Homo sapiens: one gene and its partner. The protein of the gene in region 1 interacts with the protein of each later gene in a pairwise test. Each region holds a gene or a part of one and is shown in the gene's direction. Other genes may lie near its edges.

Region 1 (10,052 bases):
AAAAAAGAAAAGAAAAGAAAAGAAAAGAAATGTTAACTTCTCGAAGCTTTTGGTATCAGTCTGAAGTTCAATCTTTCTGATTTTCCCAGTGCTCAGGAATTGCCCACCTCCCTCTCTCCCCCAGGATAAAATGACTGAGAATCAGGAGCAAAGTGGATAGAAGAAACAAAATTGTCAGACCTTTTAAAGAGGAGGGAAACCAAGTCCATTTACCCTAAGGCTTTTTAGTTGCAAATTTCTGCTGGAGAATAAGGAAAGGCCTTGTGTTTTGATATCTACACTTTTATTTGCTGTTAAATTACCATGATCCAATTACACACTGTATTTCCTAAATCTGGGTTTTGTTTAGGAACAGGTGTTAAAATGAACACTTACACACATCAAATGTTGTTGGACTGTAGGAATTCATATTATTTTATTAATACTATTCAGCCATAAAAAATGAAATCCTTTGCACCAAAAGGGATGGAACTGGAGGTCATTATGTTAAGTAAAATAAACCAGGCACAGACAGACAAATACCATATGATCTCATTCATGTGTGGGAACTTAAAAAGTTGATTTCATGGAGGTATGGAGTAGAATGATGGTTACCAGGGGCTGGAAAGGGAGGGGGAAGTGAAGAGAGGTTGGTTAATAAGTACAAACACACAGTTAGGTAGAAGGAGTGAGTTCCAGTGTTCAACAGTACAGTAGGGTGACTATAATTAACAACAATATATTATATATTTCAAAACAGCTGGAAGAGAATATTTGAAGTGTTCCCAACACCAATAAGTGATAATGGTGGCTCACGCCCATAATCCCAGCATTGTGGGAGGCCACGGCAGGAGGATCGCTTGAGCCTGGGAGTTTGAGACAAGCCTAGGCAACATCGTGAAACCTGGTCTCTACAAAAAAAATACAAAAAATTAGTCAGGCATGGTGGTGTGCACCTGTAGTCTCAGCTACTTGAGAGGCTGAGGTGGGGGGATCACCCGAGCCCAGAAGGTTGAGGCTGCAGTGAGCTGTGATTGTGCCACTGCACTCCTGCCTGGGTGACAGAGTGAGACCCTGTCTCAAAAAAATAAAAAGTAAATTGAAATAAAAAAATTAATTTAAAAATGTTTTTAAAAAGATAGATGTTTGAGGTGATGGGTACTCTAAATACCCTGATTTGATCATTACATATTGTATGCATATGTCAACATTTACATGTACCTCATAAATATGTACCATTATTAGCATCGATTAAAAATTTTAAAATAAATAAATTAGATAAGACTTTTAAAATAATGCTAAGTCCTTTTATCATTTATTCTTATAGTTTGCCATCTGAAACTCTTCAACTAGGAACTAGTTACATTAGAGAATGAGAGATCAGATATAAGGCCTCAAAACCTCACATGTGCCCAGGGCTTACGGAGGGCCCAGGAGCAATTTCTACATCTCTTTTTTGTCTACATGGGTTAATTTATTTGCTCCCTGAATTGTTATTATTAAAAGTAAACAAAAAGGAAAAAATGGCATGAGCAATTCCTAATGAAAATCAAATTAGCTTTAGTGAGCCCCTACCATTCCACCATTAAATGGATAAAATAGACAGACAGTACAAGAAAATCATGATTTTTATTTTTAATCTGACTAACCACAGTTCTTTAGCATCCTGTATGTGAAATTAGTATCATGGTTACTTTTCCCAGTTGGCCATTTGGCAGGGGATCTAAATAGAAAAACTAAGTATGGATGGCTATCTGATCATGGAATGTCAAGGAATGATGGATTTGACTTCACGGTAAAAAAATACAGACATTCAAGTTTCCCCAAATTCTTCCTATGTAGTCCACTGGGATAGTATATCTTTTCTGCAAGTAGAAAGCATTGAAACAAAGATCCCATAAACAACCACCTAAGCTGGGCACGGTGGCTCACGCCTGTAATCCCAGCACTTTGGGAGGCTGAAGAGGGCAGATCACCTGAGGTCAGGAGTTCGAGACCAGCCTGCCCAACATGGCGAAACCCCTGTCTCTACTAAAAATACAAAAAAATAGCAGGGTGTGGTGGTGGGCACCTGTAATCCCAGCTACTCAGGAGGCTGAGGCAGGAGAATTGCTTGAACCCGGGAGGTGGAGGTTGTAGTGAGCCGAGATTGCGCCATCACACTCCAACCTGGGCGACAAGAGCGAAACTCCGTCTCAAAAAAAAAAACCCACTTAAATGAAGTCATTGTCTTTTCACCCATTTAATCAGGCCTTCATTATAAGATATGTGGGTACAATTATTATTTTTGTGTTAGAGATAAGGATTCTGAAGTATAGAAAAGTTAAGTTACTGGCCAGGCATGGTGCCTCATGCCTGTAATCCCAGCACTTTGGGACCAACATGGCAAAACGGCATCTCTACTAAAAATACAAAAAATTAGCTGGGCGTGGTGGTGTGTGCCTGTAATTCCCGATACCTGAGAGGCTGAGGCACAAGAATTACTTAAAAAAAACCCCGAGAGGCCAAGGTTGCAGTGAGCCGAGATCATGCCACTGCACTCCAGCCTGGGCGACAGAGTGAGACTGTCTCCAAAAAAAAAAAAAAAAAGGAAGAAGAAAAGTTAAGTTACCTACTGAAGGCTCTTACTCCCAAGGCCACACTTTTAACCACTATGCAAAGTGCCTCTCCTTTTCTCTGACAAGATAGTGAAGAAATTAATAGTCCTCAGTCCTTTCATAAGATATAAAAAGAAAACAAAAATAGTACAGCTTTTAAATAACTCTTCACTGTAGCAGTTTTCACAAACAGGTCTACTTTTAGTATAAACCAGTATATATACCAGAATGTTCCAGGCAAGTGGTTTTAACTATTTCACACTTCCATTTCTCCATGTTACAATAAGACTACCAGTTTTTACCCCTTTCCTACTTCATATAAGTGTATGAAGTTGAGTAATATGATGTCATCAAACATACTTTGAGCTTCTTGGAAAAGTGATATGTAAACACAAAGTAGAGTGTTTATAAAAACAGTGTCAATGTGGTATGTATCCAATGTAAAATAGATCAAATTATTTTATTAGAGATTCGGACAAAAATAACTCTTTAATCTTATCTATTTTTTCATCATTTTGCATACTGCCTGTGTCTGTGGCTTTCAAGGGCAATCTGAAAGGGAACTAGGTCTGATACGTGTTGATTGGATTCGCAGTTTAGCATTCTCCTTATTGAGGAAATACTGCAGTACCCAAGATCTTGGCTGTTTCCAGGTTTTGGAAAAATCTCAGGTCAAAATTGTGTTGCCAGATGGGATTATTACATAGAGGAAAGTTGGCTGTGAATTTCCATATACCAAAGGCCATCCTAACTGTCTTTTATGAAGGACCCAACAGGCTTTTATTATAATTCAAAAATAGCCAGGTCACCCTAGGACTTTTTCCAGTGTTACCAAAACATCACTTTTACTGCCCAAACGGAAGTAGGCCATTACCTCACAGTAGAAAATAAAAGAAGCTAGCTTGAGACCAAGGTAGTTTTAAAAGGCATGAAGGATGAGAACCACCATTCTTATTTAGTGGCTCTGGACAGCGTCACTTGGAAACAGAACTGCCTCATGCACAGATAACAATGCCTGACACCCATTACACTTTACATGCACGTTCACATCTGCCTTTTGGATAAAGGGCAAGAAGAAAGGAACATTTACCATTGAGAAAGAATTAGAAGCCTTGTTAGTCTCCTTTTAAGACTTCTTCACATTCCACATGGATTAACTGTTAGGGAGAAAAACACTGCAAAAATAATCAGCAATGCATTTCGGAGGCTCATCAGCTCCCGGCTGACAGCTCACGTTAGTTGGATGAAGGCTGTGGATAGGCTTTTAGATGTGCTAACCTGTAATTTTGTTTCTAGAGTGGCCCAAAGTGGAAGGAGTTTTCACTCCCTCTCAATAAGCCCTCTTGTACGGTTGTGACCTCTGGCCTATCATAGGTTTTTGACGATAAAGGAGAGCCCGGGTTTTTGAGGTTAAGGGAGAGTTCCCTGACATCTTTGGGGTGAAGAAGAGATGGAGGGAGCAAAGCTGCCAAAGACCTCCTGTGACATTTCCACTAGTATCCACCTATAAGTAAGTGCTGGACTATGATTCCCTGGGGAGATCAGTGGCTCTAAAGACAGGCCCCTGGGCTCTTTCCTGGCTCTGACTCAGCTTCAAACCTGCCGTGCAACTGCTCAGAGTCTAAATGTCTTCATTTATGGAACTGAAATAATCCTGCTAAGATTACTTTCTTTGCTTCGTGATGTTTGCCTGAGAATAAGTAGCTGGGACTACAGGCGTGTGCCACCACGCCCATCTAATTTTTGTATTTTTTGCAGAGACAGGGTCTCACCTTGTTACCCAGGCTGGTCTCGAACTCCTGGGCTTAAGCAATCTGCCCACTTTGGCTTCCCAAAGTTCTGGGATTACAGGTGTGAACCATCACACTCGGCTAAAATGTTTTGAAAAATGGAAACATTGTACAAATGTGAGATGTTGTGCAACATGTCACTGAAACACGGTGGTATAAGAGAAGTTTTGGGAACCAGCAGACCAGAATTAGGCCTGAGAAAATCTTACAGTAAGCAGACCAGAATTAGGCCGTCTGAGAAAATCTTACAGTAAGCAGACCAGAATTAGGCCTGTCTGACAAAATCTTACAGTAAGCAGGCCATCTTCCCAGGCCTTCTCTTTTCTCCAGATAATGAAGAAGGCTTTTTAAAAGCAAAGCCAACTTGATTTGTTAATTGATCATCCAACTTCTTAACTGTCTTTTTCTCATGGTAAAATACCGAGAACATTGTGGGTGAGGAGCAAGTCGGGAGGTGGAACCCACCCCCGCACCCTGCCTCCAATAGATTGTATGTGTGGGTCGCTATTGCTGGGACCCACGAAGGCTGTGGATTGAGGACACAGGGTAGAAGTGGGATCTTCTGCAGGTCAGTGTCAGATGTGTCTGTGTGATGTAGTCATGGGAGAGGCGCGAGTCTTGGGCGGGTGTATCTTAGGGGTGTGGAAGTGTCTGCAAGGGCCTCCGTGGTATGTCATCACATTATTTATATCATGGGCATGACCCTGAACGTTCACCCGAGAGTGGTGAGAGAAAGGCCAGGATTTAAATCAGTCTTGACAGCGCAGATGAAGTTTGTTATTGTTTTCCGCCCTTCCCGAGGGACTTCGGAAATGGCCCCCTGAGAGGTGAATTCTTGGAAAGAATATGAGGGCGGTTAAGGCGTCTCTGTCTCAAACTCTCCGGATTTTTTGCAGCTACCAGGGACTGCGAGGGTCTGCGTCCTGGGTGGAAGGAAGCGGCGTCAGTCAACTTCCTCGCAGCGGCGGCAGCGGCGCGGGCTGCAGCGGAGCGCGCGGGTCTGCGCATCCCGCCCCCGGGTCGGGAAGGGGCGGAGCTGGGCGTCACCCGCCCCCGGCGGTCTCCTCCTCCCGGCCGCTCCCCCGAGCCGAGCCCGCCGCGGTCACAGCCACCCGCGGGAAGCTCGTGGCCGGGACCCCGAGGCGGGAGCGCGGGCTGGGCCGGGCTGGGCTACGCGCACGGGCTCGGCCGCCGCCCCTGCCGGTGAGTCCCGCCGCGGGAGGCGCGGAACGGGTCGAGTTGGGTATTGGGACCGCGAGGTCGGGGAGCCCCGGGGCCCGAGCTCGGGAGGCGGGGACGTCAGGATCGCGGCGTTGGGGAGTCCTCGCACCCCGAGCTCAGAGGGGAGGTCCAGAGTCGCAGCGTTGGGAACCTGAGGCCAGGGGCCGGAGTTTAGGGCCCCGATGTTGAGTCTCCGAATCCAAGCCCGGAAGGGGGGACGACGGGTTAGGATGCTGGGGAGCCCTGGAGCTCTGAACGGCTGTAGTGGGGTGGCCAGGACTGCGATGCTGGGGAGTCATGGAGCCTGAGCCTGGAGAGCTGGCGGGGGTGTGGGGACCGCGATGTTGGGAAGGCTGAGCCCGGAGGGCGGGAGATTCAGGACCAAGACGTGGGGGAGTCCGACAGGGCAGAACGAGGGGCGTCCTGTCCGCATTTGTGGGGCGCCCTCCGCAGGGCGGAGGGGAACGGAACCTGGGAGGGGAGTGCGGAGGAGAGGAAGCCCGGGGCGGTAGGGAGAGCCCGAGGAAGGGCAGCCCGAGGTAGGGGAACCCCGGAAAGAGTAGGGTGGGTCTAGGCATGTGCTTTCGCCGGGGAAAGATGGAGGGGGCTTCTCTGAGAGGGTGGGCGCGAGGAGCGGAGTTGTGATGGGAACCGCCGGCAGCTGGCTAATGGGCGGATGCTGGGGCTTGGCTGGATGGGAACGCCGCGGTGGGGTGTCGGAGGTGGCTGGTGGGGCTGGAACGCTGGGAACGTCTGTCTAGGCTATGAGAACGCAGCGCCCTCGGTGGAACAGGGTCGTAGATAACTCGAGAGGGAATCTAGTCTAGGGAGCAAGACCGGGCATCCCCAGACGGAGGCGGGTGGGGACCTCGCACTCAGCGCGCTTGGGGAATATTCGGAGCCTGGGTTTGGGGGCTGCTGCACCTTGCCGACCCGGTGCGGGGACCTGGAGGTAGCCGGGCACAGCAGCTTCCTGTGCAGCTGTGGGTGCTCCAGGCACTGGCAGACTAGTGGGAAGTCCAGGAGCCTTGGCAGGCTCATTGTCTTGACCTAAGTTGCATTCCATATTTCTTAGCTGGGTTAGAAATGATTTTGTCCAGGAACCCAATGAGAAGAGCCTGGGCTAAAAAAATTAGTTATGGAGTGAGATTTCAAATGTACAGGTAATACCTACCCGTGTGTGTGCGCGCCTTAGGGATAACTCATACAATACACTGTATGTGTGATTTTTAGACCCACGTGTGTACTACTTGTTCCAGTACTCTGAGAAGCTGTTTCTGGGTAAAAACGAGGAAAATCCACAACAAATACACACACCAAACAATGTCCACAAACGCACTGCATTCCAGTCGAGTTAAACATGAGAGTATTGTACAGTTTGGGAGTATTTGCTTGTCAGTGAAGACTCCTGTTACTGAAGTTAATAGGAGTTGCCTGCATGGAAGGTAGACTGCCCTTGACTGCCCTGTTAAGGTTATCCACAACGTGTACCCAGCCCTGAGCTGCTGCACCCTTGACCAGGTCAACTGGAAGGGAGCCAGACTGCTTAGGACCTCAGTGGATGAGTATCCAAGTGTGTATCTAAAAACAAAGGACCAAGGCATGGCTTTGTTTTTGTTTTTGTTTTTTATTTCTGCTGTTTGTCCTTGGGTGCGTGTCCTTCAATTATTAGTTAAATGTTGACTATCTTACATTAACCCATCTTGTATTGTTAATTATGTATGGTAATTATTTCAGTTATTTGGCGTAACAACCAATTCTGGAAGACCCAGAGTAGAGGAATCTTATTAAGTGGATATATCCATTGAAAGATATGTTTTTTTTTTTTTTTTTTTTGCGGGTGTGTGTATGCACCAGATTTCCTTCTGGTGCATATAGGTCCATCTTCTGACACACACTGAGATTTGAGCTTCATTGGATAAACAAGGATTATTTTGGCAACTAGCATTTGTTGGGTCTGTTTTTAATTCATGAAAAGGAAATCTTTAATAATTATGCAAGTTAACAGGATAGAAAGCGATTTATTCATTTTACAAGAATCATTTCAGGATAAGCATATTTCCATTAAGGGTGTGTGTATACCTTATTGAGTGGTCAGGACCTTGCATCAAAATCTGCACTATCATTCCTGCAGCAGTGTACTTATTCACTTGGACGTAACACTTGCTGATGCTTCCAATTCTTTATCCAAATGTTAAAATAAATATGCCAGTATTTATACATTCAAATCAGTATTTCTCCCCTTCAAAAGCCTGCTCTTGGCAAGCTGTGTACTAATTCTAGTGATGCTGTCACTACTGAGAATAATTTTGGAGCTCCTGCTTTGGAGTTGCCTTCCGAGTTTGCAACACATTTCCTGATTGCCTCAGTGGTGGCAAACCTTCCTCAGCTGGGAAACAGCCAGGCACTGTGCGGGGCCAACTTGGGCTTCCGAGGTGGGGAATCGAGGTTGTCAATAAGTATGCTCATTAAAGTAATGAAAATTCTCTTGAAAGACTGGCAGTTCTAAAAGGGGCATTTAGTAATGGCATGGAGTATGTATTTAGGATTGGAAGGAATTACAGTTGGTCCCTGAATAACACCGGGGTTAGGGGCTCCCATCATCTCCACAGTGGAAATTTTGAGTACAACATTTAACTCCTCAAAAACTTAACTACTTTGAAGCACAACCTTCATTTTGGTGTTTATGCTCTGGTATGTATGTAAAGTAATTGGTCCTGTCACTTTATTGTTATAGCTTATGGCTTATTGGGCTAGAAAAAGTAAGCCTTTCTTTGCCCCTCCTGATACTTGTTACTAGGCAGTCTCTGTCATTGTGGATTTTTACAGAAAGCAAAACAAAAATACAAAAGACTTGTTGTCTCACCAAAAAAAAAAAGGTACCCAGAAAGCCATTTGCCCCAGCTGTAGGTAATGCCTGGTGCTTGATTTTTGATGTGAAAGGATCCACAGAAGTAAAGGGAAGAGAATGATTTCTGAACATTCATTTCAACTTTGGGATTTCATGGCACACAGTAAAAAATGTACTGAACATATCCCTTTTTAAAATTCGCATTTTTTTTTTCAGGTTGTGTTGCATAAAGCTTCATACAGCCACAGCTTGAATCTTGATCTAGCTGTGGTTTGGGGCAAGTTGTTTCATCTCTTTTGGCCTCAGTTTTCTTAAAATGAAGATATTAATGAGTATGTACCTCATGGGGCTGTGATGAAGATGAAATAACATTGATGCGTGTAGAACACTTGAGTTCGGTGCCGGACACATCATGAGTGCTCAACAGAGTCTACTTATTCTTGTTAGGAATATTATTTATTGATAGTCTTATGTTAAAATTCCTTTGAAGCCATGTGGAAATTTATCATTTCCCAGGTAATGATATTCCCTTCAGTTAGGTTTTGCAACTAACTACAAATAGAACATTTTGGTTTTTGCCCTCCTGGTCTTTTAAGAGTTTTTAAAGGGTAACCTGAAAAGCAACGACAATTAGTTATTTTTTATTTATTCAGAAACGAGGAAATACAGACTCCAAATAAGTGGAGTCAGTGCTCCCAGTTACTTTCTTTTGAATTCAGATTTTTTTTTTAAATGAGCATTCCTGTTATGATTGTATATTATGTATAACAGTTTGGTGTGGTAAGGCAAATCTGAAAGAAAAAAGTTTAAAAGCCTCTTCTCTAATTTTTTTCCCTTCATCCAATGAAAATATTATTCTAACGAAACAGCTACAGTTCTCTTGGCACGTATTGAAAGAGACGATTCTGGTAAACATTCCCTTCATTCCAAATGTGAGTTTTGCTCTGCTGTGTTTTTTAAACAATAGGGAAGAATAGCCTGGCACTGAAATCTCAGCTCTTCTGTAAATGTCAACACTAGTTTTTTTTCAAGTTTATAAATTTTATTTTATATATATATGTACATATATTAGAAAGATGGGAAAGTTTCATCTTAATTTTAATCAGATGATTAGGGGCTGCTATGAAATAGTTAATGTTTCATGAAATGTTGACCATTTAGTGAGAATTCTCTGTTCTAGGCAAGCAAGTGCTGGAGATGGAGAGGCTTGAGACACAGGCTTTGCCCTTCAGAAGTTCATTCACATCATGTGCTCTCTTACAATGATGCAGGAACAAAAGCTTCTTCTCCTAATGGCCTGTGGAGCTAAGAATTCATATGGATTTTACTACATGATATTTTCCTTCAATTTCTCAAAGAAGGGTAAATAGGTGGATCTCTCAATAGTGTTCATATTTTTGAGGTGGATTAACTCTTTCAAAATTAGATCCCAATATGTACTCAGAGGCCATAAAAGGAGAAAATAGCTATAATTAGTGAATTACAAAGTATATCTGCAGGATGGGGTGGTATTATTGCTATACGAAACTTTCCTGGAATGTTGTGTTTGGTTTTTGCTCTGTCTTCTGAGTAGCGGTTTATGTACTTGTAAAGGACCAGGAAACAATATACATT
Region 2 (9,331 bases), on another chromosome or scaffold:
ACCTGGCCAGTTTATGGATTTTTAAGCAAATATGAATATAATCATTCTTTCACTGTTTATGATGAAGCTAGTATACCCTTCATCACATTATTATTATTTTTTGCTTAACAATAAATCTTCAAGATCACCCTCAGAACCTCCTTTTCCTACCTACATGGTGTATCCCGGGTATCATAAGTCAATTTTTTAAATATAAGCCTATCTTAGACAATTTTGTTATAACAGCAATGCCATATGACTTGGTGTCATGTGAGTTTTTTGAAGTTCTAGTTGCTAGAGAAGGCAGTTTCTCTTTCTCAGTACTTCCCTCATTTGAGGTCACCTGATAGCGAATACTACTTCAAACCTCACCATGTTTTTTGTTTGTTTGTTTGTTTGTTTGTTTTTCTGAGACAGGGTCTTCCTCTGTTGCCCAGGTTGGAGTGTAGTGGTGTGATCATGGCTCACTGCTGCCTCCAACTCCTGAGCTCAAGCAATCCCCCTGCCTCAGCCTCCTGAGTAGCTGGGACCACAGGCTTGCACCACCACACTCAGCTAATTTTAAAATTTCTTACAGAGGCAGGAGTTTCACCATGTTGCCCAGGCTGGTCTCAAACTCCTGGGCTTAAGCGATCTCCCCACCTTGGCCTCCCAAAGTGCTGGGATTACAGGTGTTAGCCACTGCACCTGGCCCAAACCTCACCATCTTATCAAAGTTTCTACTTAGAAATCAGAGTCCCTTAGAAATGATGTAAGCCTCTACTCCAGACTTCCTTCTCTCTCATCTTCTAGTCCTTTTCTAGGCCTTGGGCAGGCCAGTGGACACTGCTCAGGCATACCATCTATTCCCATCTAGGGACCCTTCTCCTTCCCCACACAGTGAATGGCACACTCCTCACAGTTCTGCCTATTGGGAAGATCTTCCCTCCCTACTGTCTTTGAGGGTCACCTCTGGGTGTGACTGGAATGCAGCTATCCCCTATTTTCAGCAGACCCTTCCATAAGCCCACTTCAGGCCTATTCCTCCTCCTCGTCCTCCTCCTCCTCCTCCAGGTGGCTATATCATTTTTGATTTAATATTTTATCTGGGGTGGGCAGGGAGCATTTTCAGAGGTTTCCATAGTTTTTCCCCATTGTGATTGCTCTTACCCAGATCAGTAAGATGAGGAAAGAACAGCAAAGCAAACTGAGAAGGAGCATTTTAAGGAGAAGAGAGTGATCACCTGTGAGACTGATCCACAGGTGATCTACCATGGAGTGGTGTAGCAGTAGCCATTCATTGCCATTGATGTAGGGTATCCACTTGGATATGCTTCAGTTTATCCATTCTACTGTTGATGGACTTTTGGGCTATTTTCAGGTTTGGGCTTTTAAGAGTAGTGTTGTTCTGGAAAGGGCACACCACTACTTTCCTGGAATTCCTGCCAAAAATGCAAAATCCCAGTCTAATCTTGAAAAAACATCAGATGATAACCCCAAACTGAGAGACATCTACAAAATAACAGGTGTGTACTCTTCAAGAATGTCAAGGTCATGAAAGAAGAAAAAGAAAGGCTGAGGAAATTTTCCAAATTAAGGAAGAGTAAGGAAATGTGAAATGCATGATTGGATTCTGGTCTTAGATTGGATTCTGGGACCAAAAAGTCCTAGGTTGGATTCTGGACTGGGGAAGAAATATATAGCTATAAAGGACATTCTTGAAAGGGTTGGCAGATGACAATATTGTGTCAATGTTAAATTTTCAGTTTTGAAAATGCTCGTTCCTAACATATAGAGACATCTATGGGTAAAGGAGAATGAAGTCTTCAGATTACTCTCAAATGGTTCAAAAATTAAATTTTATAATATTTTTTAAAGAGTACTGGCTGCTCTTGGAATGGCGCCAAAAAGATGAAAGAATTTTATAGTGACACCCATATAGCCACACCTCCTAGATTCTACAGTTAACATGTTGCTGTGTTTGCTTTATCACATTTCTATCCAAAAACTGCCCATCTATCCACCTTCTTTTTCCTGGTATTTCAAAATAAGTTTCAGATATCAGAGCACTTTACCCCTGAAAGCTTCAGCATGCATATCATTGGCTCAAGTTCAGGATTTGTTTATGGTTCTTTTCATCCTGTTATTAAATTGTAAGAGTTCTTTATATGTTCTGGATACAAATCCTTTGTCAGATGTAAATATTGCAAATGTTTATTCTCAGGCTGTGTCATACCTGTCTAGTTTCTTATGTAAGATGTTTGAATTTGATGAAGTCAGTTGTTTGCTTGTATGATGATTGCTCCGTGTCTCGTCTACTAAATCTATGCTTATCTCAGTGGAGTTTTTTGATGAATAGACTTCTTACTTTTAAAGTGTTTGTCTTTTTAGTTTTCATTTTATACTCGGGACCTTTTATGACATTTATCGTGCAGACCATTTTTCCCCGCTGCACTGCAGTGTCACCTGACTATAAATGTGTGGCTCTGTTTTTGCACTCTCTGTTCCATTACATGGGTCGTTTGTCTTTCTTCTTACCACAGTGCCTTAAATTACTTTAGATTTATAATAAAGAGGCCTTGCTGCCTGGTAGAGTAACTCATTTAGCTTTGCTGTCTTTGAGATCAGGGGAAGAAGTCACAGTGGCAATGTATTATTGTTATCACCGCGGTTCGGGGCCCAGTCCTAAGTGCCTAATTCTACAGGTAGAAGTTCTTTGTAGCCTAAGGGGTGATTCATGAGAAACTGATGCTAACCTGAATTACCTTTATTGCTGTGTGACCGAGAGCATCAGGTTGTTCAAGGAAATACAAAGGAGAAGAGAACATGCCAGAAACCCTTGGAGCCTGAGGTGCCGCAGGATTCAGAATCTTTCTAATTTTGTTATATATTATGTAATACCCCAAGCAGGATCCAGGAGAGCACCATGTAAATCAAGGCACATTAATATTTCTGCAGCAACCTAGATAAACATGTCTATTTTATTTATTTTTAGAGACAGGGTCTCACTCTGTTGCCCTGGGACTGTAGCTGGGACTACAGGTGCACACCACCACACTTGGCTGACATGTCTATTAAGTTGGAGAAATAAAGCTTACAAACAGCTTCATGTCAATTCAAATAAGAATGAGGCCAAACTTATGAAATAAGTTTTCAGAGCCTCTTGAATGTTAGAATTGCAGATTGTGGACTGGCTGTGGGCCTTGCTCCTGATTTCATACGTTGCTTTGTTGTTTTGGCTTGGCAGGCTGTATCGCATCCATTGAATACTGTGACCGAGGACATGTACACCAACGGGTCTCCTGCCCCAGGTAGCCCTGCCCAGGTCAAGGGACAGGAGGTGCGGAAAGTGCGACTCATACAGTTTGAGAAGGTCACAGAAGAGCCCATGGTAATCCCCCGTCATATTGTCGCCCACCAGTTACTCTCTGCCCCATGAGTCACTGGGCCAGAAGAGTCAATGCAAGAGGCTGCTCATGGAGTTAGGGAATTGGCCAACCCCAAAATTGTCTTTTCATTCTTATCTCAAATTCCTCCTCAAAGCAGGCTTCATGCCTGTTCTAGTTGAGGACTATCCTGGGTATAAATGGAAAATATTTTCCTGAGAAATTACCGTAAGTTCTTTCTAAAATAACCTCAGAAAGAGCTTAAAATAAAGCTTATTGTGCCGTCGCCTTTATTTCAGGGAATCACGCTGAAGCTGAATGAAAAACAGTCCTGTACGGTGGCCAGAATTCTTCATGGTGGCATGATCCATAGACAAGGTACTCTGTGGGAGCTCTGGGTGGGGTTTGATTCAGGGATTAATAATTTACTCCCTGTTCAGTGGTGTGGGGCATGAAGCTTATAATCCTCCAAACTGGTAGCATTTTTGTGAGTGTGCCAAGAGACTTTTTGTGGCTTAATAACTGGCTCTGTAGAATCAGTACATGATAAGATCTCTATGTGAATTGCCCAGTGCCACCATCTCCCTATCTGAGCCTTCTTTCACACCTATTTATACCAATATTTTTCTAGTAAGTTAATATTTGAGCAATTGCCACATGCCACCCATTGCATTAGACTTGGAAAGGACAGCAGTACCACTTGGTAGCATTTTGGGGTTTGAGCTAAACAACAAAGAAACATGGAGCTTGCTGGTGAAAGAGGAGTACTGAGTTCTTTGCCTTGCTTTGTTATTCTTTTTAGTGTATACATCTGTGTCATAGTCTGGAGTCAGTAGCCACTCTAGTTCCAGGAATTTGAGGACAAGGTGTTTTATTGTGCTGTTGGACTACTGAGGCCAAGGAGGATGAGACCATCTTAAACTGTCAAGTCAAATGTTTTCAATCCTGAGTATTTGACACAATCTGTTTCATAACATGCTGTAAATCCTGGTTTCTCTTCTATGGTATCTTGAGTTACATTGACAGCTCCTGTTTGAACTTTTGTTCTTTTGTGGATTGATTTTTCATTTCATGGCAGGCTCCCTTCACGTGGGGGATGAGATCCTAGAAATCAATGGCACAAATGTGACAAATCATTCAGTGGATCAGCTGCAGAAGGCGATGGTGGGTATTTTCTATGCTAGATGAAGACCTTCCATTGTCTCCATAAGTGTTGATCCACATTGGTATCAGTGACCTCATCTCTCTGTCAAAGTATTTGTACCTTCTTGAGGGGGCTCTTTTCACTGCTAGTCTTTAATCTGTGTAAGAAATGATAATTTTCTGCCTTTATTTAGTAAAATTCTAAAGCAGGGCAAATAACCCAGAGCATCAATCTGGTGTTCCATGAAGTAATGCCAAATGAAGTAAAGCAAGCTATAACGTATATAGTAGAATCCCATTTTTGTTAAAAACAAACAATACATATGTATGCATAATGTATGTAAATATTTGTAATGCTTTTGTTGGTATGGGGAAAGGCGTGGATATATATGCGCCATAGTTCATTTTTAGGAACTTCTTCAGGACTTTTTGGGGTAAAGAATGGGGAAGAAAAGTCTTTTTTTTTTTTTTTTGAGATGGAGTTTCGCTCTGTCACCCAGGCTGGAGTACAATGGCGTGATCTCGGCTCACTGCAACCTCCGCCTCCTGGGTTCAAGCGATTCTCCTGCCTCAACCTCCCAAGTAGCTGGGATTACAGGTACCCACCATCACGCTGGCTAATTTTTGTATTTTTAGTAGAGACAGGGTTTCACCATGTTGGCCAGGCTAGTCTTGAACTCCTGACCTCAGACGATGCGCCCACCTCAGCCTCCCAAAGAGCTGGGATTACAACAGGCGTGAGCCACCGTGCCCAGCTCGGAAAAGTCTTTAGTTAGCTTTTCTTTGTTACTCTTTGCATGTCTTCATATTGTTATGCTGATTTATGGGGCACATGACACTTTTGTATTAAAGGAGGAATTGTCCTACAAAATCTCAAAATGTAAAGATGGTTGTTGGGGAAAAAAACCTGGGACTTTGAATGAATGATCACATCATTCAACTTAGTTTTCTGTACAATTTTATGTCCATTTTTTTTAATAGAAAGAAACCAAAGGAATGATCTCATTAAAAGTAATTCCCAACCAGCAAAGCCGTCTTCCTGCACTACAGGTGGGTGGCACCATTTTCTCTGTTGTCATGATGGCAGGAGTCGGGCCATGTTGTCTTATATTCTTTGAAATTTGATTATAAGGGATGTGAGTCTAACTTTAAGTTCTAAGTATCTCGCAAGTGTGTAGCTGCTTGGCTCAGGGTCCCATTATTCCCTGCCTGGTATAAAATACAGGAGCTCATTCCCCTTTCCTCAATGGAGAACATAGTGACGACAGGAGTAGAGAATGAATGAGCCTTTGCTGCTAGTGGTCAGGTAGGAAGGGAGAGGGTAATTTTATTCTACAGATGGTAAGGAATCAATACAGCTCCAAGAGGAAAATGGGTAAAGGGAATGAAGAGATCATTCACAGGAGGAAAACTACAAATGAGCATTGAACATATGAAAAAATATTTTATCTTACCGATCATCAAAGAAATGCAAATTAAAATATGCATGAGACACCAGTTTTCACCAAGCAAATTGGCAAATACTTTTTAAAATAGCAATAATAAAGCCCCGTGATTGATAGTGGCAAAGTAAAGAAAGAAACAAAAGATAGATAGAATCTGTTGAGCACTTATTCACAATTTATTGAGGGTCTACCATGTACAAAGTACTGTGCTAGAACATGGAGGTGATATAAAGAGAAATGGTTCCCAGTTCACACATAGCTCATCAGCCAGTAGAGGAATAGATTGGACAGGGCCATGGCAAGTCAATGTGGAAGAAGGAGATATTTAAAAGAATAAATCTGAAGTTTCTATTGCAGGTTACTTGTAGTGTGACGGTATAATTTTCTTAAGTAAACTTTTAAATTGCAGTTTTGGCATATATGGGCATATATTCAACAAAGGGCACAAATCACAAGTATAAAACTGGATGAATTTTCACAAACTGAGTACACCCATGCCTAAGACCGCCGCCCCCTCACCATGCGTGTTTCCTCAAGGCCCACCATAACCCTGACTTCTAACAGCAGGGATGAGTTTTGCCCCCTTTTGAAATGTATTAACGTTGAATTATACAGTATGAATTCTTTGGTGTCTTATTTTATTCGCTCAGTATTATGTTTATGGGAATCATCTATATTGCTTCATTCTCATTCATTCATTGTATGAACATGCTACAATTTAATCTATTCTGTCAGCTTTTTTGGTCTTACATTGAATGGCTGCCATTCACCAAACAGGATCTAATTCAGCAATATGAGAAGATTTACTGCCTGAAGGGCAATAAATTCACCACGTTAACAGAAAAATGGAGAAAAATCATATGATTTTTGTGCATGTGTTTTGTGGATACATCTATGCCTTTCTTTTGAGAGTAGAATTGCCAGGTTGTAGGATATATGTGTCTTCATCTTTAGGTGATATTGCCAAATAGTATTCCAAAGTTGGTGAACCATGTTACATCCCCAACTGCACAGTATGACAGTTCTGGTTGTTCTGTATTCTCACCAATACTTAGCATTGTCTGATTTGTTGGGTTTTTTTTCACCCTTTGGCCATCCTGATGGTGGTATCACATTGTGATTCTAAAAATTCTCTAATGACTAATGAGGGTAAACTCCTTTTTATATGTTTTTTTCCACTTGGATATCCTCTTTTGTAAGATACCAATTCAAGGCTTTTCTTACTGATTTGTAGCAGTTCCTCATATATTCTGGATAAGAGTCCTTTGTCATATGCATCCCAAGTATGTTCTCTTCTTCTGTGGCTTATTTTCTTCATGGTTCCTGTTAATGACTAGAAACTCTTAATTTTAATGAAATCCAATCTACCACTTTTTTCTGATTAGCACTTTTTATGTCTTGTTTTAAAAGTTTTTACTTACCACAAGGTCAACAAGATATTCTCCTGTGTTTTCTTCTAAATGCTTACTTGTTTGATTTTTCACATTTGGATCCACAACCCATCTGGGATTGATTGTTATATACATTGTAAGGTAAGAGGTCAAGATTCCAGTTTTTCCATATGGATACCAATTGAACCAGTATCATTTACTGTACACTGTCACTTTTGTCATGGTAATATTTACAGGTCTATTTTGGAACTTTTTATTCTTTTCTTTTGGACTGTTTGTTTATCCCTGTGTCAAACCTACATATCAGTTTGGATAAAAGAGGCATCTTCACAGTATCCCAGTGGAAGTGATGATAGCAGACATCTTTGTTTATTTTTCCATCTTAAAGGGAAAGCTGGCCAGGTGTGGTGGCATGCGCCTGTAATCCTAGCACTTTGGGAGGCCGAGGCGGGTGGATTGCTTGAGCCCAGGAGTTCGAGACCAACCTGGGTAACATAGCAAGACCCATGTCCTTTGAAAAAGGCAGGGAAAGCTTTTAATCTTTCACTGAGAAGTATGACGTTGGATGTAGGGTTTCTGTAGGTATTCTTTCTCACAGTAAAGAACCTCCCTTCTATTCCAAGTTTGCTAAGAATTTTAATCTTGAATGGGTTTTGAATGTTATCACAGGCTTTTTCTGCATCTATTGAGGGGATCATATGATCTTTTTCCATTTTTATGTTAACGTGGTGAATTTATTGCCCTTCAGGTAGTAAACCTTCTTATATTGCTGAACTAGATCCTGTTTGGTTGTGATTTATTATACTTTTTATACATAACTAAATTTGACTTGCTGATATTTTGTTTGGGGTTTTTACATCTCTGTTGCAGAGAGAAATTATAAGATTCTTGTCAGATTTGGGTATCATGCTTATAATGAGTTGGGAAGTGCCATCATTTTCTATAATCTGTTTTCGTATGAGATTAGCCTTCTTTCTTCAAATGATGCTTGGAAAATTTGTCAATGAAGTAATGAGGTAGGTGTGTGTGTGTGTGTGTGTGTGTGTGTGTGTGTGTGTGTGTGTGTTTGGGAGCAGGAGAGGAGAATTTTCAATAATAAATTCAAGTTCTTTGATAGATATGAGTGTCCATATTTTCAATTGTGAAAACAGTTGTTCAAAGAGTAGCTGCCCTGTACTGAGACAGACGACCCAGATCCAGCAGTAACTGTGGACACGTTGACGTGGAAAGATATCTCATGCCTTCTTTTTTTTTTTTTTTTTTTTTTTTTTTGAGACGGAGTCTCACTCTGTCGCCCAGGCTGGAGTGCAGTGGCACAATCTCGGCTCACTGCAAGCTCCACCTCCCGGGTTCAAGCGATTCTCCCGCCTCAGCCTCCCGAGTAGCTGGGACTACAGGTGCACGCCACCACACCCAGCTAATTTTTGTATTTTTAGTAGAGACGGAGTTTCACCATGTTAGCCAGGCTGGTCTCCAACTCCTAGCCTCATGTGTTCCACCCGCCTCGGCCTCCCAAAGTGCTGGGATTACAGGCGTGAGCCACTGCGCCTGGCTTCTCATGCCTTCTTGTTAAAGGGATTCATTCTGACCCCTCCGCAAACACAATCACTTCAGCGTTTCAATTTCTCTTTCTTGGGTGCTCCCCCACCATTCTTACCTCCCTGTTGTTCATTCCATCCTGACCCCATTTGTCTACAGCAGGACATGCTCTGATGCTGGTGTTTCTTTTGAAGCTGCCGCCTGCAGTTCCTTTTACCTTCTTTTTAGATGTTCATGAGAGCGCAGTTTGACTATGATCCCAAAAAGGACAATCTGATCCCTTGCAAGGAGGCGGGACTGAAGTTTGCTACTGGGGACATTATCCAGATTATCAACAAGGATGACAGCAATTGGTGGCAGGGACGGGTGGAAGGCTCCTCCAAGGAGTCAGCAGGATTGATCCCTTCCCCTGAGCTGCAGGAATGGTGAGCCATTTTTGTGCAGGTGGAAGGGCCATGTGCCTGCCACA

What was found.
Region 2: the proteins of PAQR8 (region 1) and MPP1 interact in binary tests that used the Homo sapiens proteins (3 or more experiments, as listed by UniProt).

What each region holds. Positions count from the first base shown.
Region 1 is NC_000006.12:52,356,681-52,366,732, forward strand, and holds the start of PAQR8 (membrane progestin receptor beta), read left to right. Parts: upstream 1-5,470; 5' UTR 5,471-5,569; intron 5,570-10,052. UniProt on the Homo sapiens protein: Plasma membrane progesterone (P4) receptor coupled to G proteins. Seems to act through a G(i) mediated pathway. May be involved in oocyte maturation. Also binds dehydroepiandrosterone (DHEA), pregnanolone, pregnenolone and allopregnanolone.
Region 2 is NC_000023.11:154,786,160-154,795,490, reverse strand, and holds part of MPP1 (55 kDa erythrocyte membrane protein), read left to right. Parts: intron 1-3,205; coding exon 3,206-3,349; intron 3,350-3,643; coding exon 3,644-3,722; intron 3,723-4,422; coding exon 4,423-4,508; intron 4,509-5,468; coding exon 5,469-5,537; intron 5,538-9,090; coding exon 9,091-9,287; intron 9,288-9,331. UniProt on the Homo sapiens protein: Essential regulator of neutrophil polarity. Regulates neutrophil polarization by regulating AKT1 phosphorylation through a mechanism that is independent of PIK3CG activity.